Linked DNA regions of Homo sapiens. Each later gene encodes a partner of the first gene's protein in a complex. Each region holds a gene or a part of one and is shown in the gene's direction. Other genes may lie near its edges.

The links.
Region 2: the proteins of MICALL1 (region 1) and EHD1 are in contact, whole or in part, in an NMR structure (PDB 2KSP), measured with the Homo sapiens proteins. Residues at the interface, in NP_203744.1 of Homo sapiens: Lys422, Tyr424, Asn425, Pro426, Phe427, Glu428, Glu429; in NP_001269373.1 of Homo sapiens: Gly464, Ala467, Lys468, Met471, Asn478, Leu481, Gly482, Trp485, Lys486, Lys492, Asp493, Gly494.

The regions. Positions count from the first base shown.
Region 1 is NC_000022.11:37,932,763-37,947,157, forward strand, and holds the end of MICALL1 (MICAL-like protein 1), read left to right. Parts: intron 1-35; coding exon 36-126; intron 127-276; coding exon 277-350; intron 351-4,317; coding exon 4,318-4,432; intron 4,433-4,983; coding exon 4,984-5,030; coding exon of another isoform or gene 5,031-5,057; intron 5,058-7,946; coding exon 7,947-8,068; 3' UTR 8,069-10,060; downstream 10,061-14,395. Other genes in the region: C22orf23 (UPF0193 protein EVG1), read right to left, coding at 11,553-11,755, 12,280-12,411. UniProt on the Homo sapiens protein: Lipid-binding protein with higher affinity for phosphatidic acid, a lipid enriched in recycling endosome membranes. On endosome membranes, acts as a downstream effector of Rab proteins recruiting cytosolic proteins to regulate membrane tubulation.
Region 2 is NC_000011.10:64,871,059-64,886,616, reverse strand, and holds the start of EHD1 (EH domain-containing protein 1), read left to right. Parts: upstream 1-7,995; 5' UTR 7,996-8,129; coding exon of another isoform or gene 8,130-8,152; coding exon 8,153-8,556; intron 8,557-12,098; coding exon 12,099-12,196; intron 12,197-15,558. UniProt on the Homo sapiens protein: ATP- and membrane-binding protein that controls membrane reorganization/tubulation upon ATP hydrolysis. In vitro causes vesiculation of endocytic membranes. Acts in early endocytic membrane fusion and membrane trafficking of recycling endosomes.

The DNA.
Region 1 (14,395 bases):
GCCAGCCCTGGCCTCAGTGGGTATCTGGCTTCCAGAGGGCCGTGAGGATGACATGCTGGTGGACTGGTTCAAGCTCATCCACGAGAAGCACCTACTGGTGCGGCGAGAGTCCGAGCTCATCTATGTGTGAGTCCCCCCGCCTGGGGCATCCCTCCCTGGAATCCGTAGAGCTTAGAATGGAGAACCCTTACCCTCTTCCCTCATCAGTAACAGCGCAGGGCAGGGCAGCCGGGGCTCGGGCAGAATTGTTAAGAGTCACCTTATTCCCACCCCTAGCTTCAAGCAGCAGAACCTGGAGCAGCGCCAGGCTGATGTCGAGTATGAGCTCCGGTGCCTCCTCAATAAGCCAGGTGAGTGCAGCCACTGGCACTCCCCTGGCACCTGCCCTGGGGCCTGGTGACACGGAGGAGTGGGGGAGCGGGCAGACAAAACCCCAGTAGGATGCACAGGCAGACTGGGGACAGGGCCAGAGGAGGAGGTGCGGGGCAGGGCTGTCTGGGTCACCCCCAAGGATGGGAGAGACTGTAACAGGCAGTAAGCTGGCTGGGGCTGTGGTAGGAGAAGGAACCGCACAGACAGTGTAGGGTGTGGACGTCCGAGGGACCAGGGATGACAGGCTCTCAGTGAATGAAGATCAGGCCCAGGACCAGCCCAGCCTGTTTTGTGCGTGGGTCAGACTGTTCCTTCTTCTGCCACTAACTTGCTGTGTGACCTTGGGCAGGATTCTTAGCCTCACTGAGCCTCAGTGGCTTCAGGTGTAAGATGGGAATGAAGGTCCCCACGTCCTCGGGTGTTCTTGGGACCAGGAGACAGTGGACGTGGACTCTGTACCCTCTGAAGGGCTGATGGCTGATGGTTACCATGTGGCCGAGTTGGGGTTTGGTGAGGAGGGCTCCTCACACGCCCTGTGACCGTGGAATGCAGTGAACCGCAGCTGCAGGCAGAGACCCCAGGACTATGGAGATTCCAGAGTTGGGAGCCAAAGCTTTTGACCACTTTCTTATGGCTCAGGCATGGTGCCAGCCCTGGGCAAGGGCCATCTTGACAGATGGGAAGTGGAGGGCCAGAGAGGTCAAGGGACTTGGCTGTTGGTGACGGGGCTGGGCTTCCATCCATGTCTCTGATCTGGGGCTGTCCCTGCACACACAGCCCCTCCAGACTGTGGGGATGGTGGCAGGGGAACTGTCTACTGACTGGGGAATTTGGGAGGCTGGAGTGTCCCAGGGGAAGCCACAGAATGTCCCAGGCTTCCACTGCCTTGTGTGAGTCACTCCCAACTCTGCAGGAGGCTGGGGCGTGGCCACCACTCAGAGCCACAGCGGCGCCCTGTGGCCAGAGCGGGCACGGCTCCTCTGCCTCCCTGGCTAGCCCGGCCCCAGGGCTTACTGTGGCTTTTCCAGCCCCCGTGTGGTGGCTGTGCGTCCCGGGCTTGTCAGCCTGTCCCGGATGTTGCTTTTGGAAGGTGAAGCTGGTGTATGAGGCTCCGAGTACAGTACACCATGAGGGCCATTGCTTGGGGGCATCAGGCTGCCAGGTTCAAATACCAGCTCCACCTTCACTGTGTGACACTGGTCAAAGATTTCATGTCCCTGAGTCTCAGTTTCCCCACGTGTAGACTGGGGACATAACTTACCCAGGCCCCAGATATGGAAAATGGCAAAGTGGGATTCAAACTTGGGTGGTGATTTGGAGGCCCTGCTCTGTCCCCAGAACCAGGTTGGGCCACCTGCTCCTCAATTTTGGCAAGGTGAGGCCATAGGGGAAAGGGGCAGTGGCTGAGGGGGCTTCAGGATATTTATTTATTTATTTTGGGGGGGGGTATTTATTTATTTATTATTATTATTTTTTTTTTGAGACAGAGTCTCACTCTGTCGCCCAGGCTGGAGTGCAGTGGCGCGATCTCGGCTCACTGCAAGCTCTGCCTCCCGGGTTCACGCCATTTTCCTGCCTGAGCCTCCCAAGTAACTGGGACTACAGGCGCCTGCCACCACGCCCGGCTAATTTTTTGTGTTTTTAGTAGAGACCAGGTTTCACCATGTTAGCCAGGATGGTCTCGATCTCCTGACCTTGTGATCCACCCACCTTAGCCTCCCAAAGTGCTGGGATTACAGGCATGAGCCACTGCGCCTGGCTCTATTTATTTATTTATTTTATTTTATTTATTTATTTATTTTTATTTTATTTTTTGAGATGGAGTCTCACTCTGTTGCCCAGGCTGGAGGGCAGTGGCACAATCTCGGCTCACTGCAAGCTCCGCCTCCCCAGGTTGACACCATTCTCCTGCCTCAGCCTCCCTAGTAGCTGGGACTACAGGCACCTGCCACCCCGCCCGGCTAATTGTTTGTATTTTTAGTAGAGACGGGGTTTCACCATGTTAGCCAGGATGGTCTCGATCTCCTGACCTCGTGATCCACCCGCCTCCGCCTCCCAAAGTGCTAGGATTACAGGCGTGAGCCACCGCGCCAAGCCCTGGCCCTATTTGTTATTATTATTATTTTATTTTATTTTATTTTTTTGAGTCAGAGTCTCGCTCTGTCGCCTAGGCTGGAGTGCAGTGGCACGATCTTGGCTTACTGCACGCTCCGCCTCCTGGGTTTACGCCATTCTCCTGCCTCAGCCTCCCGTGTAGCTGGGACTACAGGCGCCCGCCACCACACCCGGCTAATTTTTGTATTTTTAGTAGAGACAAGGTTTCATCGTGTTAGCCAGGATGGTCTTGATCTCCTGACCTCGTGATCCGCCCACCTCGGCCTCCCAAAGTGCTGGGATTACAGGCGTGAGCCACCGCACCCGGCCTATTATTTTTTTGAGATGGAGTGTCACTGTGACATCCAGGCTGAAGTGCAATGGCGTGAACTCAGCTCACTGCAACCTCCGCCTCCCAGGTTCAAGCGATTTTCCTGCCTCAGCCTCCCCAGTAGCTGGGATTACAGGCGCCCACCACCACGCTTGGCTAAGGATATTTACTTTTTTTTTTTTTTTTTTGAGACAGAGTCTCACTCTGTTGCCCAGGCTGGAGTGCAGTGGCGTGATCTGAGCTCACTGCAACCTCCACCTCCCAGGTTCAAGCAATTCTCCTGCCTCAGCCTCCCTAGTAGCTGGGATTTCAGGTGTGTGCCACCACACCCCGCTAATTTTTGTATTTTTAGTAGAGACGAGGTTTCACCATTTGGCCAGGCTGGTCTCGAACTCCTGACCTCTGGTGATCCACCTGCCTCGGCCTCCCAAAGTGCTGGGATTACAGGAGTGAGCCACCGGGCCCGGCCTAGGATATTTATTTGAAGCCAGGGAAGCCTGTGGCGGTAGATGTTGTGGAGGGAAGGCCAAGTGTGGGCACTCATCCCTGGAGCCTGCAGGCTGGGGGAGGGGGAAATACTAGGGCCCCAGTGGGCCCCTGGGGGTGGTCCTGTGGGTTGGCTGGGGCCTTGAGAGGAAAGGAGGCAGGAGGGGCAGCAGGTGTGCCCAGCTTCAGGGGAGCCTCCTGCTGGGCTCCCTGCCCCCAGCATCCCCTCTAGTCTACCTTCCTCCACAGCCTTGGATAAATGTCCCAGTATGTCACTTGGGTTGTGTTGCTTCTCCTGCTGGAGGAGCCCTGGGGTTCCCTGTTGTCTCCTCGCCCCTGCCCCACTCTGTCCCTCCTGAATCTTGCCTCCCGCCAGAAGCCACCTAGTGAACATTTGTTGAATGGATGAATGAACATGAGCATGAGACCCTTGGTGCTGCCCTGTTCTTGCAGTAGGTGCTGTGCTGGCCCTGCTGGGGCCCCTTGCAGGGCTCTTTGGTAGGCAGCCTGGTGTCCTTGGTCTCTTCTGTCACAACTTTCTTTTCCCTAAGAACTTGTAGGCCCTGGCCGGGCGCGGTGGCTCACGCCTGTAATCCCAGCACTTTGGGAGGCTGAGACGGGTGGATCACGAGGTCAGGAGATCGAGACCATCCTGGCCAACATGGTGAAACCCTGTCTCTACTAAAAATATAAAAAATTAGCTGAGCGTGGTGGCAGGTGCCTGTAGTCCCAGCTACTCGGGAGGCTGAGGCAGGAGAATGGCGTGAACCCGGGAGGCGGAGCCTGCAGTGAGCCAAGATCACGCCACTGCACTCCAGCCTGGGCGACAGAGTGAGACTCCGTCTCAAAAAAAAAAACAAAAAAAAAAGAACTTGTAAGCCCCACCTATCGGGGCCCTTCCTTTCTGCGCTTAGTTTCTTGCATGGTATTTAGCATGGGGCTGGCCTGCCGCACTTAGGCAGTGGCTCCTGGTGGCCTGGGGAGGAAGAGGGCTTTCCTACCACTCATGCCCCCTAACTTTTCTCCCTGGGCAGAAAAGGACTGGACGGAGGAGGACCGGGCCCGGGAGAAGGTGCTGATGCAGGAGCTTGTGACCCTCATTGAGCAGCGCAACGCTATCATCAACTGCCTGGATGAGGACCGGCAGAGGTGACATGGCCAGGGGTGGGGGGTCCTGGGGGCAGGGCCAGAGCAGGTCAGGCTCTGGGCCTCATGGGTGGGGCAGCTCCCTGGAGAGCCAAAGACACAGTCCACGCCTCAGGCCAGGCCAGCCCTGCCCTCCTACCAGCGATCCCAGTGCACCGTTGCTCAGCCCTGTGTGGACAGAGAGGGCATCTGCTCCTTCCTCCCGTAGGACTCTCAGCTGCCGCTGCTTTTTTTTTTTTTTTTTTTTTTGAGACAGCGTTTCACTCTTGTTGCCCAGGCTGGAGTGCAATGGCATAACCTCGGCTCACTACAACCTCTGTCTCCCAGGTTCAAGCGATTCTCCTACCTCTGCCTCCCGAGTAGCTGGGATTACAGGCATGAGCCACCACACCCAGCTACTTTTTGTATTTTTAGTAGAGATGGGGTTTCACCATGTTGGCTAGGCTGATCTCGAACTCCTGACTTCAGGTGATCCACCCACCTTGGCCTCCCAAAGTGCTGGGATTACAGGTGTGAGCCACCACGCCCAGCTTAACTGCTGCTGCTTATTTCAGGGAGGAAGAGGAAGACAAGATGTTGGAAGCCATGATCAAGAAGAAAGGTGAGGCCCTTGCTGGGGATGAGGCTGGTGAGCACTTGAACTTCGGCATTGGGGTTGGAAGGGAGGGACTGGTTGAAGGGAGGGTTGGAGTGGGCACTACCAGGATGGCTGTGCACAAACTCCGCAGCCTCTGTTGTGCAGAGAGGGCTGTGTGTAGCAAGAGAGGCCAGCATACAGCCAGGAAGGCTGTGGCTTAGGCTTGGAGGGTAGCCGTGGGATGCCCTGATGCCTACAGAGACGACTGTGGTATATGGGAGGCATCTTCCCAGGGTGGATTTGCCCTCAGCTGTGCATTCCCCCTTGAGATCTGCAGCTGGTTTTGTTGGAGTCCGTGGGCCCAAATAGCAGTGCTTCCTGGGGACCAAGTGGTGCTTGAAACAGTTAAAAGAGTACTGGACAGGAGATCAAGACCATCAGGGCTAACACGGTGAAACCCCGTCTCTACTAAAAATACAAGAAATTAGTCAGGCGTGGTGGCGAGAGCTTGTAGTCCCAGCTACTCGGGAGGCTGGGGCAGGAGAATGGTGTGAACCCGGGAGGTGGAGCTTGCAGTGAGCCGAGATCACGCCAGTGCACTCCAGCCTGGGTGACAGAGCGAGACTCAGTCTCAAAAAAAAAAAAAAAAAAAGTACTGGACTGTAAGTCAAAGGATTTTTTTTCTTTTCTTTTTTTTTTTTTTGAGACAGAGTCCCACTCTGTTGTTTAGGCTGGAGTGCAGTGGTGTGATTTTGGCTTACTGCAATCTCTGCCTCCTAGGTTCAAGCAATTCTCCTGTCTCAGCCTCCTGAGTTGCTGGGACTACAGGCGCATGCCATCACACCCAGCTAATTTTTTTTTTTTTTTTTTTGAGACAGAGTCTTGCTTTTGTCACCCAGGCTGGAGTGCAGTGGTACGATCTCAGCTCACTCAACCTCCGCCTCCCAAGTTCAAGCAATTCTGCTTCAGCTTCCTCAGTAGCTGGGATTAGCTGCCACCACACCCGGCTAATTTTTGTACTTTTAGTAGAGATGGGGTTTCGCCATGTTGGCCAGGCTAGTCTTGAACTCCTGACCTCAAGTGATCCGCTCGCCTCGGCCTCCCAAAGTGCTGGGATTATAGGTGTGAGCCACTGCGCCCGGCCCTGGCTAATTTTTTTGTATTTTTAGTAGAAACGGGGTTTCATCATGTTGACCAGGCTGGTCTCGAACTCCTGGCCTCAAGCGATCTGCCCACCTCGGCCTCCCAAAATGCTGGGATTACAGGCGTGAGCCAGTGTTCCTGGCCAGGATTTGGGTTTTGGTCTTGGTTTTACCAGTACCTCACTTTGTGGCCTTGTGGTTAGGTCTTGACTCAGGCCAAGTCAGACTACTTGAGTTCTAGTCCCAGCTCTGGCACTTATGAGCTGGGTGACTTTGAGCTGGCCACTCTACCACTCTGGTCTCATTCTTCATATCTGCAGAATGCGGGTGAAAATGGCACCCCCTCACAGGTGTGTGCTGGGATTACTGAGATAATGTGTAAAACTTAGCTGAGGGCCCTGGCCCTACAAAGGGCTCAGTTGGTATTAGTCAATTTCAAAGGCCTACATTTTCCTTGTCTATAAAATTAGGGGCTCAGACAGATGATTTTGAAGGTTTCTCTTGCTCTGACAGCGTTTGTGTTGTAAGTAACAGAGCTGTGGGCACCAGCCTGGGTGAATCCAGCCTTTTAAAGATAAATGGGGGCCAGGCGCGGTGGCTCACGCCTGTAATGCCAGCACTTTGGGAGGCCGAGGCCGGCAGATCACGAGGTCAGGTGTTCGAGACCAGCCTGGCCAGCATGGTGAAACCCTGTCTCTACTAAAAATACAAAAATTAGCCGCGCATGGCAGCGCTTGCGTGTAATCCCAGCTACTCGGGAGGCTGAGGCAGAAGAATCGCCTGAACCCAGGTGGCAGAGGTTGCAGTGAGCCGAGATCGTGCCACTGCATTCCAGCCTGGGCGACAGCACAAGTCTCCGTCTCAAAAAAAAAAAAAAAAAAAAAAAAGATAAGTGGGGCCAGGCACGGTGGCTCACGCCTGTAATCCCAGCACTTTAGGAGGCTGAGGCGGGCTCATCGCCTGAGGTCAGAAGTTTGAGATCAGCCTGGCCCAACATGGTGTAACCCCGTCTCTACTAAAAATACAAAAATTAGCTGGGTGTGGTGGCACACTTCTGTAATCTCAGCTACTTGGGAGGCTAAGGCAGGAGAATTTCTTGAACCAGGAGGCAGAGTTTGCAGTGAGCTGAGACCGCACCATTGCACTCCAGCCTGGGCGACAGAGACTCTGTCTCAAAAAAAAGAAAAAGAAAAAGATAAATGGATGCCATGCTTCAGAATTCCTGGATTCTAGGCCGAGTGTGGTGGCTCATGCCTGTAATCCTAGCAGTTTGGGAGGCTGAGGCGGGGGGGATCACGAGGTCAGGAGATCGAGAGCATTCTGGCTAACAGTGAAACCCCATCTCTACTAAAAATACAAAAATTAGCCGGGGCGTGGTGGCACCTGCCTGTAGTCCCAGCTACTCGGGAGGCTGAGGCAGGAGAATCGCCTGAACCCGGGAGGCGGAGGTTGCAGTGGGCCAAGATCGCGTCATTGCACTCCAGCCTGGGCGACAAAGCGACTCAGTCTCAAAAAAAAAAAGAATTCCCGGATTCAGCAGAGCTCTTACATGTGCTGACCATCTTGATCTTTCCCCAAACACTGGAGGTGGGGAGGGGGAGGATGGGCCCCATCCTCTAGGTGAAGAGACAGAGGCTGGGAAAGGTGAGTGTCTTGTCCCTCCCAGGCTCCACACAGGAAGTGGTGGGGCTGGGCTGAGCCCTGCTGCCCATGCCCAGGCCTGTGTCACTGGGTCTAGCCTGCCCTGGATGTACCCCTCTTCTCCACTTTATTAAGTGCTCCCCTCTCTGTGCTGCAGAGTTCCAGAGGGAGGCTGAACCTGAGGGCAAGAAGAAGGGGAAGTTCAAGACCATGAAGATGTTGAAACTGCTAGGAAACAAACGTGATGCCAAGAGCAAGTCCCCCAGAGACAAGAGCTAACAGCACGAGAAGCCAGTTGGGGACTGCCCCCTCCTGGAGCAGCTCCTGGGCTGTGCTCTGTTTGAAGGGGGCGCCCTGCTCCCCTCAGATCAGTCAGGAGGAAGATGACTAAGGGGAGGGATCCTCTGGGTGATGGCCTCTTCCTCCTCAGGGACCTCTGACTGCTCTGGGCCAAAGAATCTCTTGTTTCTTCTCCGAGCCCCAGGCAGCGGTGATTCAGCCCTGCCCAACCTGATTCTGATGACTGCGGATGCTGTGACGGACCCAAGGGGCAAATAGGGTCCCAGGGTCCAGGGAGGGGCGCCTGCTGAGCACTTCCGCCCCTCACCCTGCCCAGCCCCTGCCATGAGCTCTGGGCTGGGTCTCCGCCTCCAGGGTTCTGCTCTTCCAGGCAGGCCAGCAAGTGGCGCTGGGCCACACTGGCTTCTTCCTGCCCCATCCCTGGCTCTGAGTCTCTGTCTTCCTGTCCTGTGCAGGCGCCCTTGGATCTCAGTTTCCCTCACTCAGGAACTCTGTTTCTGAAGTCTTCAGTTAAGTTTGAGTTTATGACTGAGTGGCCTGTACTGTCAGACGTGAATGGGCCTGACGGGCAAATCCATCCCTCTCTCCCTCACAGTTCCAGGAGCGGCTTCCCTCGTCTCCCCTTACTCCACAGGGAGCCTCCCTTGCCAGGACCAGGGCTGCGACGGCCATGCTGGGGCAGGTGAGTGCTCTGTTAGCTGCTCCCAGTGCTGTCCCCAGGCTGCAGTTCTGGTCCCTGGTTGTCAGGTAGGAAGGGTGCACTTGAAGCAGGTGCTCATCTCGGTTCCTTAACGTTTATAGTCTGACCCCTCACTTAGGCTTTCCTCTGCCACCCCGGTCCAGGGAAGAGGCTCGCTCCCGCCCATGGTCATCACTGGTCTGTCTGCTCTGTTGTCTGTTCTTTCCCTGACTCCCTCCCACCGAAGGCCTGATGGCTACTCACCCCTCTGGGATGGCTATGGGAGAGGAGGAGTGATGGGGACCGCCACCTTTTCTGCAGGAAATGTGCCCAGCAGCTCTTGGTCAAAGCACTGTTGCTATAAGCTATCTCTGGGATGCCTCTAGGCCCCCTTCCCTCTACACACCTCTGGGAAAAGATTACACTGTATTAACTCTCGAGGAGTTTCCTCACCAATAAACAGACAACCTCAACTGCCAGTGCCCTGCAGCCTCGGGCCACAGCGGCAGCCTTGTTTGCCTTCCCACCTGCCTCTGCCACACCTGGTGGCTGAACATCTCTGGTCGCCCAGAGGCCATGTTGGGGCCATCCTCCAAGAGGGATCTCTGCCCTCACCGCCTGCCACTGGGCAGGATCCCTTTCCTCTGCAGGGAGAGGTGGCTCCTCGGCCATGCAGCCCCTGGCAGGCTCCTTCTAAACATGCCTGTTGACCTGGAGCTGGCGCCACCAACTCCAGGGCCTTTCCAGGGCCAGACAGGTAACACGCATGAACCCGAGTGACAGCTCTGACGGGCTGTTTCGGTGTCAGGAGACAAAGCTGGCAGGGGCAGGGGTGAACTGGAGGCAAGTCAAGTCACCTGTGGCCTGTGGGGCTGAATGTGGGCCCGGTGTTGCCAGATCCTTTGTCATAAGAAGCTAGAAATCCAGATTTTATGTGTGTGTAATTTGTAAATGCTGAAAGCTAGCCTGAATTTTTTTTTTTTTTTTTTGAGACAGAGTCTCGCTCTGTCGCCCAGGCTGGAGTGCAGTGGCGCGATCTCAGCTCACTGCAAGCTCCGCCTCCTGGGTTCACGCCATCCTCCTGCCTCGGCCTCCTGAGCAGCTGGGACTACAGGCGCATGCTACGACGCCTGGCTAATTTTTTGTATTTTTAGTAGAGACGGGGTTTCACCGTGTTAACCAGGATGGTCTCGATCTCCTGACCTTGTGATCCACCCACCTTGGCCTCCCAAAGTGCTGGGATTACAGGCGTGAGCCACCACGCCCGGCCACTAGCCTGAATTTCAATCAAGGGTTGGCTGATACTGTGTGTCCAGGGTGGACTGGATTTGTCCTGGGGGGTTCTCTGGTTTGCTGCCTCCTGACCACATGATGGGGCCTTCGAGGTCGAGGACAACTGTTCCCATTAGATTGCACCCTCTGCCCTCAGGTTCTTGAGGGTGTGTGGACACAGAGGCTTTCCATGGGATGTCCCTGAGCCGGCCCTTGATTGGGGCCTCACCATTTACAGGGCCGTTTTATTCTGCAAACCGAAACTTGGGTCATGTGACCTGATGGGATTATGGGACTCCCTCCAGGTGCCCGAGACAAGGTTGATATTTCCAAAATATTTTGGTGATTTAGTGGGACAAGCAAATGACAGAATACCGGAGAAGGCAGGGATCGTGGGTGTCAGGAGCCAGAGGGGAGGGGGACAGATGTGCTGTGTACAGGACAAGGTGTCAGGTGACTCCTTCCCAGCAGGGCCTCGCAGATGCACAAGCACGGAGCTGGTGGGTTTTGCCCAAGAAAGGTCACGCGGCACATGCAGGGATTGGAACTCCCAGGCCAGGGCTCTAGGTCGCTCCCACCTTTTCATGTTTCTTTCTGTGGCCATGGGTATAGTGGAAAGACATAAAGCTAAAGCCAACTTTTAATCCTGAATGCACTGCTTGCCAGGTAAATGCCCTTGGTTGTGGTATCTTGTTGAGACTTAGTTTTCACAGAGGGATAATGAACCGTTGCAGAGGTTTATTGAGATCATTAACAGAGTGGAATTCAGCACCCGCCACAGCAGCCAGCCATGGGGTGCCCAAGAGGTTGGTTCCCGTTGCCACTTGAAATATGCAAACAGGTAGCTAGAAACCATCTGGGCTTGACAAAGTCTAATGCCTTGAACAAATAAGCTTATCCCTCTGAAAACAAAATGGTGCTTGTAATGACCCACGTTAAATATGTTTTATTGGCCAGTTAATCATTGTGGTTGAATACTTGCCTAAGGCGGTAAGAAATCAAATAAGTAAATCCTAAAACAGGAAGAAAGGAATCATATTCATTCCTGAATTCAGAAAACTAAATGAACAGGCCACAGGTCAGAAGTGGTGGGAAGCAGGCCCAGTGGATACCTTTAGACACATGTCCTAGTAGGGATGCTCGGGCTTTGCTTCTCTGCGGACGGGGCTGTGAGTCTCAGAGGCTCCATCTGCATTCCGGGGCAGGGGCTAGGCTGCTGAGTATGCCTTGGGGTACTGCAGGGCAGTGCTATGCCACCACCTGACGTGGCAGAAGGCTGGTAGGATGGGCTGGCCTGAGGATGGCCCTGCCTGGCAGAGGAGTGGACTCCAGTGGTCGAGCTTGGGCTACCCTGCCCGTCTCTGGAGACAGATTAAGTGGTGGCAAGACCCTTCCTAAGTTCCTCACTCCTTCTGTGGTCAATGTCTTCCATTTCCCGGAGTTTCTGCAAAGGGCATCAGGGAAAGCAGGTGTATCAGGGCTAGGAACCTGAGGAGCTGTCACAGCAGTGAGCTAGAGCCTGACCCCTGAACCCTGCCACAGCAGACCCTGTATTTCCATTCGCACTTGGCGCTGGGCCCTTCCCCTCCCCACTTTCCTGGTTGTTTCTCCTACCTGGGAGATTTCAGCAAGGATGATTCCTCGGTACTGTTTGCCCTGTCCCAGGGCCTCCATGTCAGCCAGGAATTCTTTCCTCTCCTGGATTTCCTTCACCACTGGACAGAGGAGAGGGCTGTCAGGTTCCCATGAGGGATGCAGGCAGCGGGTTGCCTCTCTTGAGGAGAGGAAGTGGTTCTATTGTCAAATAGTGTTTCTAGGCCGGGCGCGGTGGCTCACGCCTATAATCCCAGCACTTTGGGAGGCCAAGGCAGGTGGATCACGAGGTCAGGAGTTCGAGACCAGCCTGACCAACATGGTGAAACCCCGTGTCTACTAAAAATACAAAAATTAGCCAGGCATGGTGGCGGGCGCTGGTAATCCCAGCTACTCAGGTGGCTGAGGCAGGAGGGATTGCTTGAACCTGGGAAGTGGAGGCTGCAGTGAGCCCAGATCACGCCACTGCACTCTAGCCTGGGCAATAAGAGCAAGACTGTCTCAAAATAAATAAATAAATAAATAAATAGTGTTTCTCACTTGTTGGCCCTTGGCCCTCAGGGATCCCCTGACTGCTCCATCCAATTCTGGGCCCCCTCCTCACATTACCCCCACCCCCAGCATGACTGGTCCGTCGGAGTCTTACGCTCTTCAAATCGGTCTAGCTCAGGGGCTGGAGCCTTCTGTCGTGCAGGAGGGGCCTTTCTTTTCCGTTCCTCCATGTCCTTCCCTGTGGCAAAGATATTTTGGAGTCTTTGTTTCTCCTTCTCCAAATCCCCTGTAGGGCCAAAAAGAAATGGCCTAGTTAGGCTGTAAAGGGTGCCCTTATTCATGGTCTGTGTTCCCAAGTGCACGTGCTTGCTGCAGGGTGCCTGGTCATGCAGACAGGGCTTCCGTACACCTGCTGCTACCCTGGGTTCTCCTGAGCAATACTGTACTGTCAAGAGAGGCAGGAAGAGGTGGAAAGAACCAAGAAAAGAGTTTGGGTATGGTCTGTAATTCCAACACTTTGGGAGGCTGAGGTGGGAGGATTGCTTAGGACCAGGAGTTCAAGACCAGCCTAATGGATGTAGTGAGACCCCCATCTCTTTTTTTCTTCTTTTTTTTTTTTTTTTTTGAGACAAGGTCTGACTCTGTCGCCCAGACTGGAGTGCAGTGATACAATTTCGGCTCACTGCAACCTCTCGGGCTCAAGTCATCCTCCCACCTCAGCCTCCCGAGTAGCTGGGACTACAGGTGGACGTCATCGTGCCCAGCTAATTTTTGTATTTTTTTTTTTTTAGTAGAGATGGAGTTTTGCCATGTTGCCCAGGCTGGTCTCAAACACATGAGCTCAAACGATCTGCCAGCCTCGGCCTCCCAAAGTGCTGGAATTACAGGCATGAGCCATCACGCCTGACCGATATCCTATCTCTAAAAAAAAAAAAAAAAAAAAAGTCCAGGCACGGTGGCTCACACCTGTAATCCTAGCACTTTGGGAGGCTGAGGCAGGCAAATCATGAGGTCAGGAGTTCGAGACCAGCCCAGCCAACATGGTGAAACCCCATCTCTACTAAAAATACAAAAAATTAGCTGGGCATGGGCCGGGCGCGGTAGCTCATGCCTGTAATCCCAGCACTTTGGGAGGCCGAGGTGGGCGGATCACGAGGTCAGGAGATCAAGACCATCCTGGCTAACACGGTGAGACCCCACCTCTACTAAAAATACAAAAAAATTAGCCCGGCGTGATGGCAGGTGCCTGTAGTCCCAGCTACTCGGGAGGCTGAGGCAGGAGAATGGCGTGAACCTGGGAGGTGGAGCTTGCAGTGAGCCGAGATGGTGCCACTGCACTCCAGCCTGGGCGACAGAGCAAGACTCAGTCTCAAAAAAAAAAAAAATTAGCTGGGCAGGGCATGGTGATGGTGCCTGTAATCCTAGCTACTTGGGAGGCTGAGGCATGAGAATTGCCTGAACCCAGGAGGTGGAGGTTGCAGTGAGCCGAGATCGTGCCACTGTACTCCAGCCTGGGTGACAGCGCGAGACTCCGTCTCAAAAAAAGCTGGGTGTGGGGAACACCTGTGGTCCCAGCTATTCTGGAGACTGAGGCAGGAGGATTGCTTGAGCTCAGGAGTTCTGGCTGCAGTGAGCTATGATCATGCCACTGTATTACAGAATGGGTGACAGAATGAGAGCGACACTGTCTCAAAAAAAAAAAAAAAAAAAGGCCGGGAGCGGTCGTTTGTGCCTGTAATCCCAACACTTTGGGAGGCCAGGGTGGGCGGATCACTTGAGGCCAGGAGTTCAAGACCAGCCTGGCCAACATGGTGAATCCCCATCTCTACTAAAAAAATTAACTGGACATGGTGGTGGACACTTGTAATCCCAGCTACTCAGGAGGCTGACACATGAGAATTGCTTGAACCCGGGAGGCGGAGGTTACAGTGAGCCGAGATAGCACCACTGCACTCCAACCTGGGCACAGAGTAAGGCTCTGTCTTTAAAAAAAAAAAAAAAAAAAAAGTTTTGTCAAAACTTAGCAGAGCAAGGCTAAGAAAGCTCAGGAACCTGGGGCCTCGGCGATGCCTGTAGTGGCAACTTATGTATAGGGGCTGCAGGGAGAGGTTAGGCTGTGGCATTGAGCCCTGATAGCCCCTATCATCAGGAAGTGGTAGATTTCAGTTAATCCTGAGTTCTGGAAAAATAAAAAAAAAAGGACCATCTGACTGGTTTCCTCTGCGCCCTGAATACCCCTAAGCCAACATGTGCTGAGGCTCAAGAGCATT
Region 2 (15,558 bases), on another chromosome or scaffold:
AATAGCGCTCACTGCAACCTCCGCCTCCCAGGTTCAAGCAATTCTCCTGCCTCAGCCTCCCGAGTAGCTGGGATTACAGGCATGCGCCACCACACCTGGCTAATTTTTGTATTTTTAGTAGAGACGGGGTTTCTCCATGTTGGTCAGGGTGTTCTCGAACTCCCGACCTCAGGTGATCTGCCCGCCTCGGCCTCCCAAAGTGCTGGGATTACAGGCATGAGCCACCATACCCGGCCTGCAATAATATTTGCTCCCTTTTCTCTCTCTCTCTCTGTCTGGCACCCACATACACACATACACACACACATATTTTCTGAACCACGGGAGAGTAAGTTACATAAGTCCTAGCCCTTTACCCTTAAATATTTCAACATGTATCTCCTAAGAAAAATGACATTTCTTACGCAACCACAAGACAAGTACCAAATTCAGGCCTGATGACAGTGATGCAATGCTATTATCTAACGTACAGTCCACTTTCAAATGTCTCTGATTGTCCCAGTCTGCCAGGACCACGCTTCACATCTGGTGTCAGCTCTCCTCAGTCTTCTTTAATCCAGAACCATCCTCAGCCTTTCTTTGTTTTTCAAGACCTTGATATTTTTGAAGAGTCTAGATCAGTTGTTTTGTAGAGTGTTTCTCATCTTTTTCTCTCCATTTCCCCCCAATTAAACAAGTCAAGTACATCCATTATATACATTTGGACAACATAGAAAAGTAAATAAAAATTGCCCCAGTTCCTACGATGCAGGGATAACCCCGTAGACACTTCCTGTAATCACTGAGTAAGCTGACTCACTTGTTCTACGCACTCTGTGCACATGAACTCATGTCATCCTAGGAGGCGGGTGCTTTTGTTATCTCTTGAGTGCCTTGCTAAAGATCATATGGTCTGTAGGATTTGATCCTGAACAGTCTGCTCCAAAGCCCATGCACTTGGCCTTTATGCTATACTGCTTCTCAATAATGGCCAGCCACGTGCGTGTGGCGTGCGCGCGCTCATCAGGATGCCTCAGCTTCTGCCCTATTGGCATTTCGGGCAGGGTAATTCTCTGCTGTGGGAGTGCCCTGTGTGTTGTAGGATGGTCAGCAGCAGCCTTGTCCTCTGCCTAGTAGATGCCAGCAACAATCCCCAAAATAATCATACCAAGAATGTCCCCGGGGGAGCAAAATCACACCCAGCTGAGAATCACTGTGTGGGGTGTGTGTGTGTATGTGTGTGTGTGTAGCCAGGTGATGCTGTATTCCCTTCTGAAATCTATCCCAGTGATTGGTACTCCATGGTCACTTTTGGGTCCTTCCATTTTCTTCTCTGGTCCCATGTCTAGTGGCTGCCAGGTGTTGCCTGTGAAGGGACTCGTGGATCGACAAAAAGACAAATCTATTGCAGTAGCTACCTTCTACTGCTACACAACAAAGTGCCACAAACTTTGTGGTTTAGAACCGCCCCCATTTATGAGCTCCTGGTTCTGTAGGTTGGAAGTCTGGGCCCAGCATGACTGAGTTCTGTTCTCAGAGTGTCAGATGCTGAAGGAAGGTGGCAGCCAGGCTGCCCTATCACCGGGAGGCAGGGGAAGGAATCTGTCTCCAAGCTCATTCTTGTTGGCAGAATCCGGTTCCTTGCATCCATAGGACTGAGGTCCCCGTTTCCTTGCTGGTGGTCTGCTGGGGCCCCTCTCAGCTCCTAGAGGTCACCCACATTCCTTTCCACATGGTGTCCCCCAGGCTGGAGTGCAGTAGCACAATCATGGCTCGAAGCAGCCTCAACCTCCCTGGCTCAGGTGATCCTCCCACCTCAGCCTCCTGAGTAGCCGGGACTACAGGTGCATGCCACCACACCCAGCTAATATTTTGTATTTTGGGTAGAGATGGGATTTTGCCATGTTACCCAGGCTAGTCTTGAACTCCTGGGCTCAAGTGACCCACCCCCTCAGTCTCCTAAAGTGCTGGGATCACAGGTGTAAGCCACTGTCCAGCCAGCTCTGCTTTCAGAGGGCTCAGTGAGCTGGGGGGCCCACTGGGATTATCTCCCTTTGTACAGTGGACTGCACCATCTAACACCGCATGTCATGGAGTAAGTCACCAGATCCGCATTCCCAGCATTACACTGGATATGTACACCAGGGGTGGGGGATCTTGCAGACATCCTGAAATTCTGCTTAATGATGACCAAAGGGCAAGAGAGGTGTTTCTGGGACAGGACATGGAGCCAAGGGGCAGGGGACCAGGTTGGGTGAGCAGGAGACGGAGGCCTGACCCCACCTCTGAGAGGGTCCCACTATATTCCTGCCCTCGGGGACACCCCAACATGTACCTCTAGGAGCAAGCATGGTGCCTGGGCAGACGTGGGCCTCAGGGGAGGGTTCTGGTCTCCAGTCTCCTTGCAGATGGAGCGTCACCATGTTCTGTACTTAAGGGCACAGTAAAGAAGCTGCAGGTGAGAGGAATGTGGCAGCTGGGCCACAGGACGGGGAGGGAGACTGAGTGTCGGCAGACAGGCGGGCTGGGGGACCACCATGTACCACCCCAAGTGACCTACAAAGAGACTTTAATTTGGGGGGATGGAGGAGGGAGGTGTTCGCCCAGCAGAGGGGACAGGAGGGTGGCCTTGGGCACGATGTTTGACTCCTGAGGTGTGGGAGTGAGGAGCTGGGCTTGTTGAAGATGGGCTGGGCTCTGTGCCCTGGTGGCTGAGTGTGACACAGAGTTGGGGACAGAATTACCCTCCAGCCCCCCAGCCTGTGAGCCCATGGTGAGGCTCAGGGCCACAGCAGGGCAAGGCCAAGGCAAGGGAGAGGCAGCTGGAGCAGAACTTGGGCAGGCTCGTTCTTGCACACACGAGACACACTTCAGAGCCCCCGGAAATGCAGAGGGGCCGTGTGCACGGCAGCAGTCTGCACTCATACAAGGGAGGCTAAGACCATGCACCTCACTTGTACTCTCAGGCTGCTGAGGCTGGGGGACAATGGGGTTACACTCTCCATTTCATTAGTGTAGGGCAAGGGGGACCCCAGCACCCCACAAGGGACCCCCTAATGTTGTCACCACAGAAGGCGATTGCTTATGTGCCAAATAATAAGCCATTTCCTGTGGAGTCAGGCAAAGGCCTGGGCCCTCCAATAAGTTTAGGGCAAACCCTGCACCCTGCACTCAGCGGCAGCCCCAGCCTCATCAGCCCCAGCAAGGCAGGGCCAGAAGCTGCAGGGACTGAGACACACACACAGAAAACTGGCAGGTGAACTAGAGCTTTTACTGAAAGTGCTCAGAGACCTATAAGTCTCAGCTCTGCAAAGCACTGTGCAGTTATATGTGTACATCATCCTGATAAATGTGTAAGCCTGTCCCCCAGGCTGCAGAGCAGCAAAGGGGCTAGGAAGGGCTGGTGAGCTTCAGGGCAGAGATTCACTTCAGCCTGCATCTGGGGAAGAGGCTCTTGAAACCCTCTTTCTCTGCTTTTCCACCTGCCCGTCCTTGCAACTTCAAGTGGCTGGAGTGTGGAAAGGGCAGTGTTAAGATTCAGAAGGCCCTGGCCAGGCGTGGTGGCTCACACTTGTAATTCCAGCACTCTGGGAGGCCGAGGCAGGCAGATCACAAGGTCAGGAGATCAAGACCATCCTGGCTAACATGGTGAAACCCCATCTCTACTAAAAATAGAAAAAATTAGCCGACGGGCATGGTGGTACACGCCTGTAGTCCCAGCTACTCGGGAGGCTGAGGCAGGAGAATCACTTGAACCCGGGAGGTGGAGGTTGCAGTGAGCCAAGATCACGCCACTGCACTCCAGCCTGGGCAACAGAGGGAGACTCCCTCTCAAAAAAAAAAGACTCCGAAGGCCCAGATTCTCATTCAGTCTGGGCTACTTCGAGCAGTCACTGGACATCCCGGGCCTCAGGCTCTTTCTCACTGGAATTTGAAAGCAGCTAAGATTCTGACACGGTCACCTCCAAATTGGGCCATGTTCTGGCTGCCAGATGCCTTCAGAGCCCTCTGGGGCCCAGCAATCTCCCCAGAGCCATCACCCAAGGGCCACAGCTGCTGCAAGAGAAAGGCCTCATGGTGTGGAGAGGACACTCTTCTTGCCAGTGTGGGAGACCCGGCATTCAAAAGAACAGTCCTCCTCAGTTCCTCACCTTGTGTCGGGAAAACTGATTTGTTGCCCAAATCTCATGACTGTGAGAACAAAAATCTGTGCTGATATGCAAACTCTGTCAGTGGAAAGAATGAACCACTCCTCATCCCAGGGAGAAACCTATGTTTTGGTTTTTCTCAGCTCGATTTTTCTGCCATATTTGGAGAAAAACTCCTTAAAAAAAAAATATCGACTGGGTGCGGTGGCTCATGCCTGTAATCCCAGCATTTTGGGAGGCTGAGGTGGGTGTATTACTTGAGGTCAGGGGTTCGAGACCAGCCTGACCAACATGTATTTTTAGTAGTCTCTACTAAAAATACAAAAAATTAGCCAGGCATGGTGGCAGGCGCCTGTAATCCCACCTACTTGGGAGGCTAAGGCAGGATAATCACTTGAACCCAGGAGGTGGAGGTTGCAGTGAGCTGAGATCGCACCATTGCACTCCAGCTTGGGTGACACAGAGTGAGACTCTGTCTCAAAAAAAAAAAAACACTCTCAAACATAGTTTATTATATAGGTGAATCCTGGTCCCTGTGATGGGCTTATTGGTACGATTTCTGGTAGCAAGCATAGGTACCAGGGCCTCCAACGTTTTTGGATTTGCAGCAACGGGGGTCAGCTACTGACAGGGTCCAGTCATGCTGGATGAGGATGCCTCTGGTCCTTTTGGAAGCCTCATCCATTTATTTCCGGTAATAGGCCACTAAGGCTTTGGAGATGGACTGATGTTGATAGCATAAATCTGGGTCACATGACCACCACCCTTCACACAAACATGCGTGTGCATGTCAGCAAATTGCTCCTTGCCCAGAGGCAGAACTAGGAACTAGTTCCAGCAGCTTGAATTGCAGCGCTCGGCTCCATCATCTCCAGGGGCCATCCATTCACCTTGATGAGGCCACTGCCATGTTTGCAGTGGATTGCACGGACTGCAGCTGGCCCTTGGATGGCATAGCCAAGAGCACAGATAAGAGCTCCTCACTGCACGGCACCGCAAGCGGAAAAGGCACCTCTCTTTTTTTTTTTTTTTTTGAGATGGAGTCTCCTTCTGTTGCCCAGGTTAGAATGCAGTGGTGCGATCTTGGCTCACTGCAACCTCCACCTCACGGGTTCAAGCGATTCTCCTGCCTCAGCCTCCTCAGTAGCTGGGATTACAGGCACACGCCACCATACCTGGCTAATTTTTGTATTTTTAGTAGAGACGGGGTTTTGTGATATTGGCCAGGGTGGTCTTGATCTCAGGTGATCTGCTTGCATCGGCCTCCCAAAGTGCTGGGATTACAGACATGAGCTACTGCACCTGGCCTTTTTTTTTTAAGTTGTCTCTAGGGACCTTGTAGATGTTTTCCTAGATCAGGCCATGACAGGACCAAGCAGACCACTTAGAGGGGAGGTGAGGCCCCTTTCTGCTGGATGAGGGCGTTTCTGAGGAGAGCTAGGGGGTACCTCAAGGCCCTGGGTTTGCAGGGAATGGATTTATTAACTGAAGAATAAAACACTGGGAGTGGGGGATGGCACAGTTTCTGAGATAAAAGAAAAATACTTGAACCCTCCATCAATCTGCCATGGGCTCAGGCAGACAGGCAGAAAGTGAAACAGCGGAGAAACCAAAAGTGAAAGGGTGCATTCACATTTTATACAACTTTCCCACCAAACAAACTGCCCTACTCAGAAAACACAAAAGAAAAAAAAATTAGGACATTTTCGGTGTGGGGCATGACAAGATAAGGAAGCTGCCTGGAAGCTGGGTGCCAACTCCATGAAATTGGGGGAAACTAATTGCTGGTCACGTGGGCCTCACCAGGGTGACAGAGATCCCTTCTTTCAGTCCTTTAAGATCTTTGGAGAAAGTCAAGTGGCCATACATAACGACAGGGTCTGGGTTTTGTTTATAAATAACCCAGGAACATTTTGTTGTTTTCAGTTTTCTAGGGCTGGGTTTTCCCAGCACACAGGGCTCTGGGGAGATTTGAAAACCATGGCGCGTCAATGAGAATGCTGCCGGGGCGCCAGTTTGGAGCAGCCTCATTGAGACGACTGAACAACTACTTCATTCAGGATCCTCAGCCCTGGGCCCTTCCCTAGATCAACCCAGAAACTGCATCTCCGGGGTGGATCCCTAACAGTGCTGAGTAGGAGGCAAACACTGTGGCTTCTAAGGCTGACCCGGGAAGTCTGGACTAGGCCCGCCGGAGGCTCCTCGTCACCAATTGGCATGCAGCCTCTGGTGACAGCTCTGCCTAGGAGCCTCAGTATCTTCTTTTGAGAATAACACCAAAAAAAAAAAAAAAAAAAAAAAAGGGGGGGGGCAGTAGCTTGTGTGCTTTACTATGATGAAAAGAATCAAATCAAAGCACTAAGGGGCGTAAGATTGCAGGCAGGGTTGGAATTACTTATCCGCTCTCCAATGGTTAGGGAGCAAGAGGGGAGGGCAAGGGAACTATCTATTCCCTCGGAAGGGATCTTACAAGCGGTAGGCGAACAAACCTCCCATCGTGTCCTCTCTAGATTCCACCACTCAGTTCCCCTGAGATATCCCCCGTTCTCAGATTTGAGTTCCTGCCTCTTCCTCTTAGCCTACCAGCCCAAGTTATCCCCTGATACAGGCCCCTAGCCCTCCAGGCTTCCACATCTCCCAGAAGCGAGGAAGTTGGACCTGAGGCTTTCAAAGTCGCAGGTTCAATTCAGATCTCTTTAAGAGCCCCCAGGGTCCTGCTACCACAGGTTGGTGTCTTGATACTGGTTACATAACAATCAGTCCCCAAAGCTCTGACATCACCCACTGAAGATTCTCACCAGCCTGGACAGCCAAAGGGGTCTGTGTGTGGCCGGGGAGGATGGCGGGGGAGTGAGCCCCATGGAACAGCCAGGAACTGGTAAGGGGAGGTAGGGCACAGATCCCAGTAAATGATGGTAAATGGTGGTGACCCCGAGAGGAAAGTGGAAGTATTTGGGTTTTTAAACTTCCCCCTAAATTCCCACAAGATTTCATTGTTGCCCCCACACTTCCCCTCTTCCCCACATAGGGAATTTCCGATTTCACTTCCCAATACGCAAGTGGCCAGAGAGCCTCAACTTCCTCCTCATGCCCTCCCTGCCTTGCCCCAGCTATAGCCTTTGTGGGGAAGCCTTCTCTTCTCCCGCGCGAGTCCGGTGTCACCCATGTCCTCCCTCGCTTGCGTCCCTCTCCCATTCCCACCCCGTCGGCCTGAGGGGAGGTCAGGCCTCTCGCTGCCCATTTTTCTTTCCCCAGTCACCAGCCCGCCCCGGATTCTCTACTCCCTCAGCTTGCTCTGCTACCACTTTCCTGTCTCTCCCTCTCCCAAAGCAGATAAAAGATGAGGGGACAAAGACAGTGTGTGTCTGGGAAGCTGGGCTGAGAGGAGGAGGTGCCGCCGCCTGGGGGTACTCCGATGCTTCCGGGGATTCCGAGCCAGCTGGAGGACCGCACGTGGCGAACGGCGGGCGCGGCGCGTAGTCAGGGAACCAGGGTGCCTGACTGGGTGTCTCGTGGAGCCATCCCGCGGGGGTGTGGGGGGGCCACGGTGCCGGAAGGCGCGCGGCCCAGAGGCCGTCTCCGCCGAACGCCCGCTCCTCGCCTTCCTAACCGCAGCACTTTCGCGAGCCTCCCTACGAGGGGCGGGGCGAAACAGGTGCGGTTGCCACGGCACCCGGACCACAGCCTCGCGAGATTTGGAATCAGCCAATGGGGGCGGGGTAGGGGAAGACGTGGCACCAGTCGGAGGGGCGGGGCTGGGAGGGGCTCCTCCCTACCGCCCCCAATTCCGCCCTGCCCCCGCCGCGGCGGCGCTAGCCGCCACTGAGGGACCGACCCTATAAAGGCCGCTCCGCGAGGGGTGCGCAGCATTCGGCAGAGGGCGCTTCGACGGGCTGGGCTGTGCGCCTGCGCAGTGTGGGTCGCTCCCGATTCCCTGCCCCGGCCGGCCCCGCCTCGGCTCCGCACCCTCGCCCCGCTCTCAGCCGCCGCTCTGCCCCGCAGCAGCCAGCCCCGTGTCCGGCAGTATGTTCAGCTGGGTCAGCAAGGATGCCCGCCGCAAGAAGGAGCCGGAGCTCTTCCAGACGGTGGCTGAGGGGCTGCGGCAGCTGTACGCGCAGAAGCTGCTACCCCTGGAGGAGCACTACCGCTTCCACGAGTTCCACTCGCCCGCGCTGGAGGACGCTGACTTCGACAACAAGCCTATGGTGCTCCTCGTGGGGCAGTACAGCACGGGCAAGACCACCTTCATCCGACACCTGATCGAGCAGGACTTCCCGGGGATGCGCATCGGGCCCGAGCCCACCACCGACTCCTTCATCGCCGTCATGCACGGCCCCACTGAGGGCGTGGTGCCGGGCAACGCGCTCGTGGTGGACCCGCGGCGCCCCTTCCGCAAGCTCAACGCGTTTGGCAACGCTTTCCTCAACAGGTACCCACCCATCACTCCAGGGGGCGGGGGGCGCGTCCGGGGCACACCCCTCACTCGGAGCCTGACCCTCCCGTGGCTGTCGCCCCGCCGTCCTTTGTCTCCGAGGCCCCAGTGAGACCCTCAGTGACCACTCCCTGGTCCAAGGGCCCTGCCCCTTCCCAGAGTAAACCCACTGGGGGTCTAAGAGTGGGCGTTGTCGGCTCCCCCAGCTTCTGTCCTCCCCAGAATCTTCCAGGGTAACCACCAAGCCCTCCTGCAGATCCCAGCCCCACTCCCCTCAGCAGCAGGGCCGCAGTAGGAAGCTGAGCCATTCCTGCGCTCCTTTTCTTGGTCTCCACCTCCGTCCCGCAGGCTGGATGCACCTAATTCACGGAAATCAACCCTCCCCTCCCTGTCTTCTTAAGTGTCAATAGCAAAACACAATGAAACTTTTAGCCATTCCCTTCTCTGGTGCGGTGTGGGTCTGCTCTGCCTCCCCTGGGACGGTGGTTTTGTGTAGGAGGGAGGAGGAGGATCGGCTGTGGCTTGCTGACTTTGGGGCAGCCCCTTGGAGGCAGGGGACAGTTGAGGTTCGAACACTTCTCCCAATGGCAGCTCTCAAGAGGTCAGTGCTGCCCTGAGGGGTTTCAGGAAGCAGGATGAGGTGGTGGCAGTGGGAGCCCTGCAATGAGATTCTGGCCCTAAGCCCTTCTGTGCACTGAGGGACAGAATCTGAGGTTCCTTCACCCACTTGGACCTCACTTTTCCAGTTAAGTGGCCTCTGCACGCGAGGAGAGTGAGCTCCAGGACTCTGCCTGTCTCAGTGCTGTGAATGAAACACAGTGCTCCCGCCCCTCAAGGAGTGCAATGCCCAAGCTCACTTTTCTCCAGAGAAACTCGAGACATGCCCGTCCCAACCCCCAGGCGACATACCAAAGTACTTCACAGACCCTGTCCTCCCTGCCACCCCACGTTCACGGACTCCACATGCCTTTCATAATTCTGCACCAGCGAAGAGCCTCTGAAGGAATCTTTGAATCCTGCCTTCCAGGTCCCCGCCCTGCACGGTCACATTCCTTTCCAGACGCCATCCAGCTGTGCAGGGCAGCTTGCCCTAGAGCCAAGCTGGTGGCCAGGCCTACTCCAGGCACAGAGCTGACCTTCAGCAGGGTCTGTTCACTTCCAGGCATTTCAGCCCGCCCTCCTGTTTTACGGCTGTTGATGTTTGTCTGTCAAGGCCAGGTTGAGTGCAGCCCTTTGGGCTAAGGGTCCTGAAGAGGCGGAGTCCTCTTCACTTTCCTTGTGAGGGCACACCTTTTTTGAAAGGAGAGACATGGCACAGGACCAGTTTTCTGAATTTGGAAGCCTAGAGTTTCAGAGCTGGAAGGATCTTAGACATCATCTTGGCAGCCCCCACCTGACTGGTTCAGGAAACCGAGGTTCAGAGGGTCTGGCTGATGTGTGGAAGTCACCCATTAGGTCAGCCAGCACTGACTGCCTGGCTTTTGCACAGCCAGTTACTGCTTTCTGCTGCTTCTACCCGAAAAAGAGCAATTCGAGATTGCTTTGTCCGAGACCGGTGCTTTGATGACATTGGTGCCACAGGATCTGAGAGGTGGCACACGTTTATTTCCTTCTTGCTGCCACCTCATCTCCAGAGGATCCCTGATCACTGATGGCCCTGCCGAAAGGGCCCTATCAGCCCACGCTGAGGCCCAGAGCTGTGCCAGGATGTGTAGTGTGGGGAGTGAGCCCGGCGAGGAGGGTGCAACAAAGGAGGCTTTTCTCTGGCTGATACAGCCTCTCCCAGCTGAGTCTTGAAGAGACTCATTGAGTCGTGAACTTGACTTGCCGGCCTTCTCCCCCTATGTGGCTGCTCTAAGAATAAAATCAGCTGGAGCAGACCAAGGCAAGGTGCAGTCAGGGTGTCTTAAGAGTGTCTTGCAAAAACTTATTGCATAACTGGGACTGCCACTTGTGCGAGATGAAACCTGTGCGTTCTTGGTGAGATGGAATCGGAGGCATCTTTGCTGCTTCCCCTTTCTTGTTTTCTGCCATATACCCTGGGCTCTGCAGAGCAACTGGTTTCTGGGTCCTATAGATATTAACTCACTTTCTGGGCTCATTTATGAGGCATTTTTATGTATGTGATTTCCCAGAGCCAATTCTGCTTCCCATCCTTCTATTCTGTAATCATCTCTCCAGCGCCTCCTGTCCCCAGCAGGAAGGCCAGGACTGGCCTTCATGCATTGCTACTGGCACTGGCGAGAGTGAGGCCCACGTTTTGCTCGCCCTGCAGGTCAGCTGGTCTTGCTCCACTGCCTTGCAGAGCACCCCTTGCCCTGGCCAGCTGCCCTCTGCCCGTGGGCCCCTGGTCACTGGGGGATGGGGCCAAAGGGAGAAGCTGATCGGCTCAGAGTCCTCCCGTCTGTTGGAAAGGCAGCTTCAAGTCTGTGTCCTACAGATAATGGGTCAGTCTTTTCTTTGCTCTCACTACCTTTTTCAGAGAAGTTTTTTGTTTGTTTTTTTGAGACAGAGTCTCGCTCTGTTGCACAGGCTGGAGTGCAGTGGCGCACAATTTCGGCTCACTGCAAGCTCCACCTCCTGGGTTCGAGCAATTCTCCTGCCTCAGCCTGCCGAGTAGCTGGGACTACAGGCGCGTGCCACCATGCCCAGCTAATTTTTCTATTTTGGGTAGAGATGGAGTTTCACCATGTTGGCCAGGCTGGTCGTGAACTCCTGACCTCAAGTGATCTGCCTGCCTTGGCCTCCCAAAGTACTAGGATTACAGGCGTGAGCCACCACGCCTGGCCTTTCAGAGAACTTTTCAAAGGAGCTTTTTCTGCGTCCAGTGAAGGATCCCTGCTCTCAACTGAGACTGCCCCTTGCCTTTCTGGGCTGTTCTAAGCTTAGTGTGAAACTCAGATATGCGTGGCTGAGCCCTGGCCCGCAAGTCGCCAGCCTCTCCACGGCTTTGTTCTTCCTCAGCCTGCTCGGACTTTCAGAGAATGGCGCGTCTGTGCTTCTCCGTCCCACCGTCTACCAGCCTGTGTGGTCCCCAGCTTTTGCCAGCCGTCCATTTCAATTCCCTCACCCAAGCGGCTGGTTGAAAGGGCAGGGCTGGCCCTAGCAGCAGTAGGAAGCGGCCAGCTCTCTTCAGTGTGGAGATTTAGCCAAGTGCTGGAGGATTCTGAGATGGGATTTCAGCGCCCCAGCGTGACCTTCTGCTTCCCCTCCGAACTGAATGGTGACCTAGGCTTGCACAGTTTTCACTAACAAGTCAGCAGCTTGAAAGTTGACCTCTCAAACTCTAGGGGAAAAGTGTGTGAGGAAGTGCTGATTTGGGTCAGTTTGAGCCTGCTGGTTGCATTCCCAGTTGAGAAAGTCCATACGATTTGCCGGCCACCCCGGGAAACTAAGACGATAGAAAACCACCTGTCAGTTCCCCGCTGCTGGAGAGGAAGCCAGAGATGGAGCGAAGGAGTACAGAGAGCCCTTTGTTGTGTCCGGAGCAGTGATGACTGTGTCTTGACGCCTCTCTTCTGGCTCTTGCTCTCATGTAGGTTCATGTGTGCCCAGCTGCCCAACCCCGTCCTGGACAGCATCAGCATCATCGACACCCCCGGGATCCTGTCTGGAGAGAAGCAGCGGATCAGCAGAGGTAAACAGCTGTGACCACAGCTCGGGCTGCTGGTGTTGTCACACATCCTTCTCTCTAAGATCTGCAACTTGGTTCAGATGCTGCCCTTGAGATTTCTCCTTTTTTTTTTTTTTTTTTTTGACGGAGTCTTACTCTGTCACCCAGGCTGGAGTGCAGTGGCGCGATCTCAGCTCACTGCAACCTCTGCCTCCTGGGTTCAAGCGATTCTCCTGCCTCAGCCTCCTGAGTAGCTGGGACTACGGGCATGTGCCACCACGCCCGGCTAATTTTTGTATTTTTCGTAGAGATGGGGTTTCACTATATTGGCCAGGCTGGTCTCGAACTCCTGACCTCATGATCTGCCCGCCTTGGCCTCCCAAAGTGCTGGGATTACAGGCGTGAGCCGCCACACCTGGCTGCCCTCGAGATTTCTTCCAGTCTCAGCCTTTCTAAAAAAAAAAATGTGGCCGGGCACGGTGGCTCACACTTGTAATCCCAGCACTTTGGGAGGCCGAGGTGGGCGGATCACGAGGTCAGGAGATTGAGACCATCCTGGCTAACACAGTGAAACCCCATCTCTACTAAAAAATAGAAAAAATTAGCTGGGCGTGTTGGTGGGCGCCTGTAGTCCCAGCTACTCGGGAGGCTGAGGCAGGAGAATAGCGTGAACCCAGGAGGTAGAGCTTGCAGTGAGCCGAGATCGCGCCACTGCACTGCAGGCTGGGCGACAGCGAGACTCCGTCTCAGAAAAAAAAAAAAAAGTGTCCGAGTAAGAACCCATTTTACATCAGCCTCCCATCTCCACAGTGCTCTGTGCACTGAGAGGGCGGGAGCTGCTTTCTTTCTTGGCTCCCTGGGCCTAGGCAATGGGAGCAGCCATGGTGAGACCACAGCCAATCTTATGTGGCTGTCATGCTTTTGAACCCCTGGGGCATGCTGGAAACAACAGGATCAGAATCGGGCCATGCTGTGAGGGTGCAGGAAGCATTGCTGACTCTGAACAAGCCCCTGGTCCCCAGAGCTTATTAGCTTTAGTCTGTGTTTAACAGCCTTTGCCCCCCAAAGCCATATACATTCCTCACACGTCCAGCAGGACTGAGAGAGAGCCAAGCAAAAGGAGAAGCTGGTAGAAATTCATGAAACGGGCTGGTGGAAATTTGCTTACATTTGCTTAGAGGTTGACAGCAGCCTCCCTGGCTGAGGCCTTCTTGCTATGCAGTAGTGCACCGTGCCCATTCCAATTGTGTAAACTCCTGCCTAGATTCTGCCAAGCTCTTTTGAAGATCTGGTTCAGGATGAGCCTGAACTGGGTCCTCCATCTGTCACTGCCCCTTTTTCACAGACGGGTGGGGCGCTTTGGGGCCTGATGCTTTCTGGGAGGAGCTTGAGGGTAGGCTGGTACCTGGCAGGTGAGGAGTGGAGTCTACAGCTCCAAATGTGAAAATGAAATAAGATCAAACTCAAAGAGGGGTTGAGGACAAGTGAGCAAGTTTGTTGATGATTAACTTGCAGATCCTTCCCGTGTCCCTTACCCTCTGGACTGGCCTTTGCTGGGTGAGCCTTGCAGTCAAAGCCGGCAGCTAGGATTTGGGGTGCACATGTCTCTCTGCTAGGGCTGTGAGGGCATGGGGACTCTGTTCTTGGAGCTGAGAAACCTTGCTTCTCTTTCCTTCCAGCCTTGCGGGCCTTGCCCGTGTGGGACTGCATCAGAGCGTACTGAAATCACTGGCCCTCATCTGGTTTCAGAGCTGCCAGTTAAGCTGTTAGATTCTCCCACCCCTGGTGACAGTGATGCACCTAGGAGTTAAGGGAGTAGATTTGGAGACCCCTTTAAAAAAAAAAAAAAGCGAGGGCTAGTATTTTTATTTCTTACTGCTATTGTTGTTCCAACCTAGTTTTAGTAAATGCCGGATAAGCAAAAGCCCTGTCATTTGCCAAAGCAAGGTCAGAAAATCTGATTAAGTTACTCTTTTATTTTTTTGAGACAGAGTGTCGCTCTATCGCCCAGGCTGGAGTGCAGTGGCATGATCTCGGTTCACTACAACCTCCTCCTCCCTGGTTCAAGCGATCCTCCCACCTTAGCCTCCTGAGTAGCTGGGATTACAGGTGCATGCCACCACGCCTGGCTAATTTTTATATTTTTAGTAGATATGGGGTTTCGCCATGTTGGCCAGGCTGGTCTTGAACTCCTGACCTCAGGTGATCTGCCCGCTTCGGCCTCTCAAAGCATCATCACAGCCTTGAACTCCTGGGCTCAAGTGATCCTTCCACCTTAGTCTCCCGAGTAGCTGGGCCCACAGGCGCGGGCCATCATGCTCGGCTGGGGTTGTATGTCTTGTGTTGCTTGCCTTGGCCCCTGCCCTCTGAGATGCTCCCTCCCCACCTCCCACTCCCTCTGCTTCCTTTCCCTGGTAGGAAAGAGGCAGGCAGAGGTGTCTACACTGGCTGTCTCTGGGACAAGCACCAAAGTGTATGCTCCATATCAGTGGATCTGCAGACACAGCATGGCGTTTTGATTGGGAGCAAGGGGTGGACGTAGGTGTTGCCTTGTGGTCCCTGCCCTGGAGTTGCCTGTGCAGACAACAGGTTGGAGGAACAAGCCAGCAGGACATGAGGCTGCTGTCAGTGTGCTGCCCTGCTCTGCCTGTGTGGCCTCCCTCTCCCCTCCAGGTGCAAAGTGTGGCCCCTCTGCATCCCTGAGAGGCCAGGCTCCCCTATATCCACAGAAGGTCATCTCTACCCATTATGGGCAGGAAGGAGCCGGTGGCTGAAAGAGAAGCACATCACGCTGATTGGAGGAGGGGTTTCCTGCTGTGAAGTAGCAGAAGATCAAACCGATTTTACTAGACCATTTCTTTTCCTCCATAGCCCTAGAGGCCTTGGTTTAGATGTGTTTTACTAAAAGTTACCTGGTTAGGGTTTGAATGATGGTGTTTTATTGTCAGGAGAAAGACCATCGCTCAGTACCTCTTGGAGGTGCTGGGTGTAAACTCCAGGATGAGCCCCGCTAGGTGTACACAGGAGGAGTGGATTTCTGTTTCCTGGAGGCCCCGCCCGTCAGTCATGGAAAGGCCCGTGTGGCCTGTCCAGCGGAGGAGGTCGGAGTGGAGCAGTGCGTTCCCGGCAGGGCTGGCCACCTGCTACTGCCTTTGCTGGTGGCGTGGAAAGCAGGTGTTTCCCTCTCGGAAAGATGGGGCCGGCAGAGCACGCACCAGGGCCCCAGCACAACACGCCTCCCCTGGCCTGCCAGCCCGTTCCCTGGAAACATGTCCTTGTGGAGGCCGTGGATGGACATTGGGGTTGCTAATTGCATTTACTTCCATTTCCCACCCCGTCTGGCCCCGCCTGGCCCCTCCTGACTTTTTTTCCCCTTTCCCCATGGT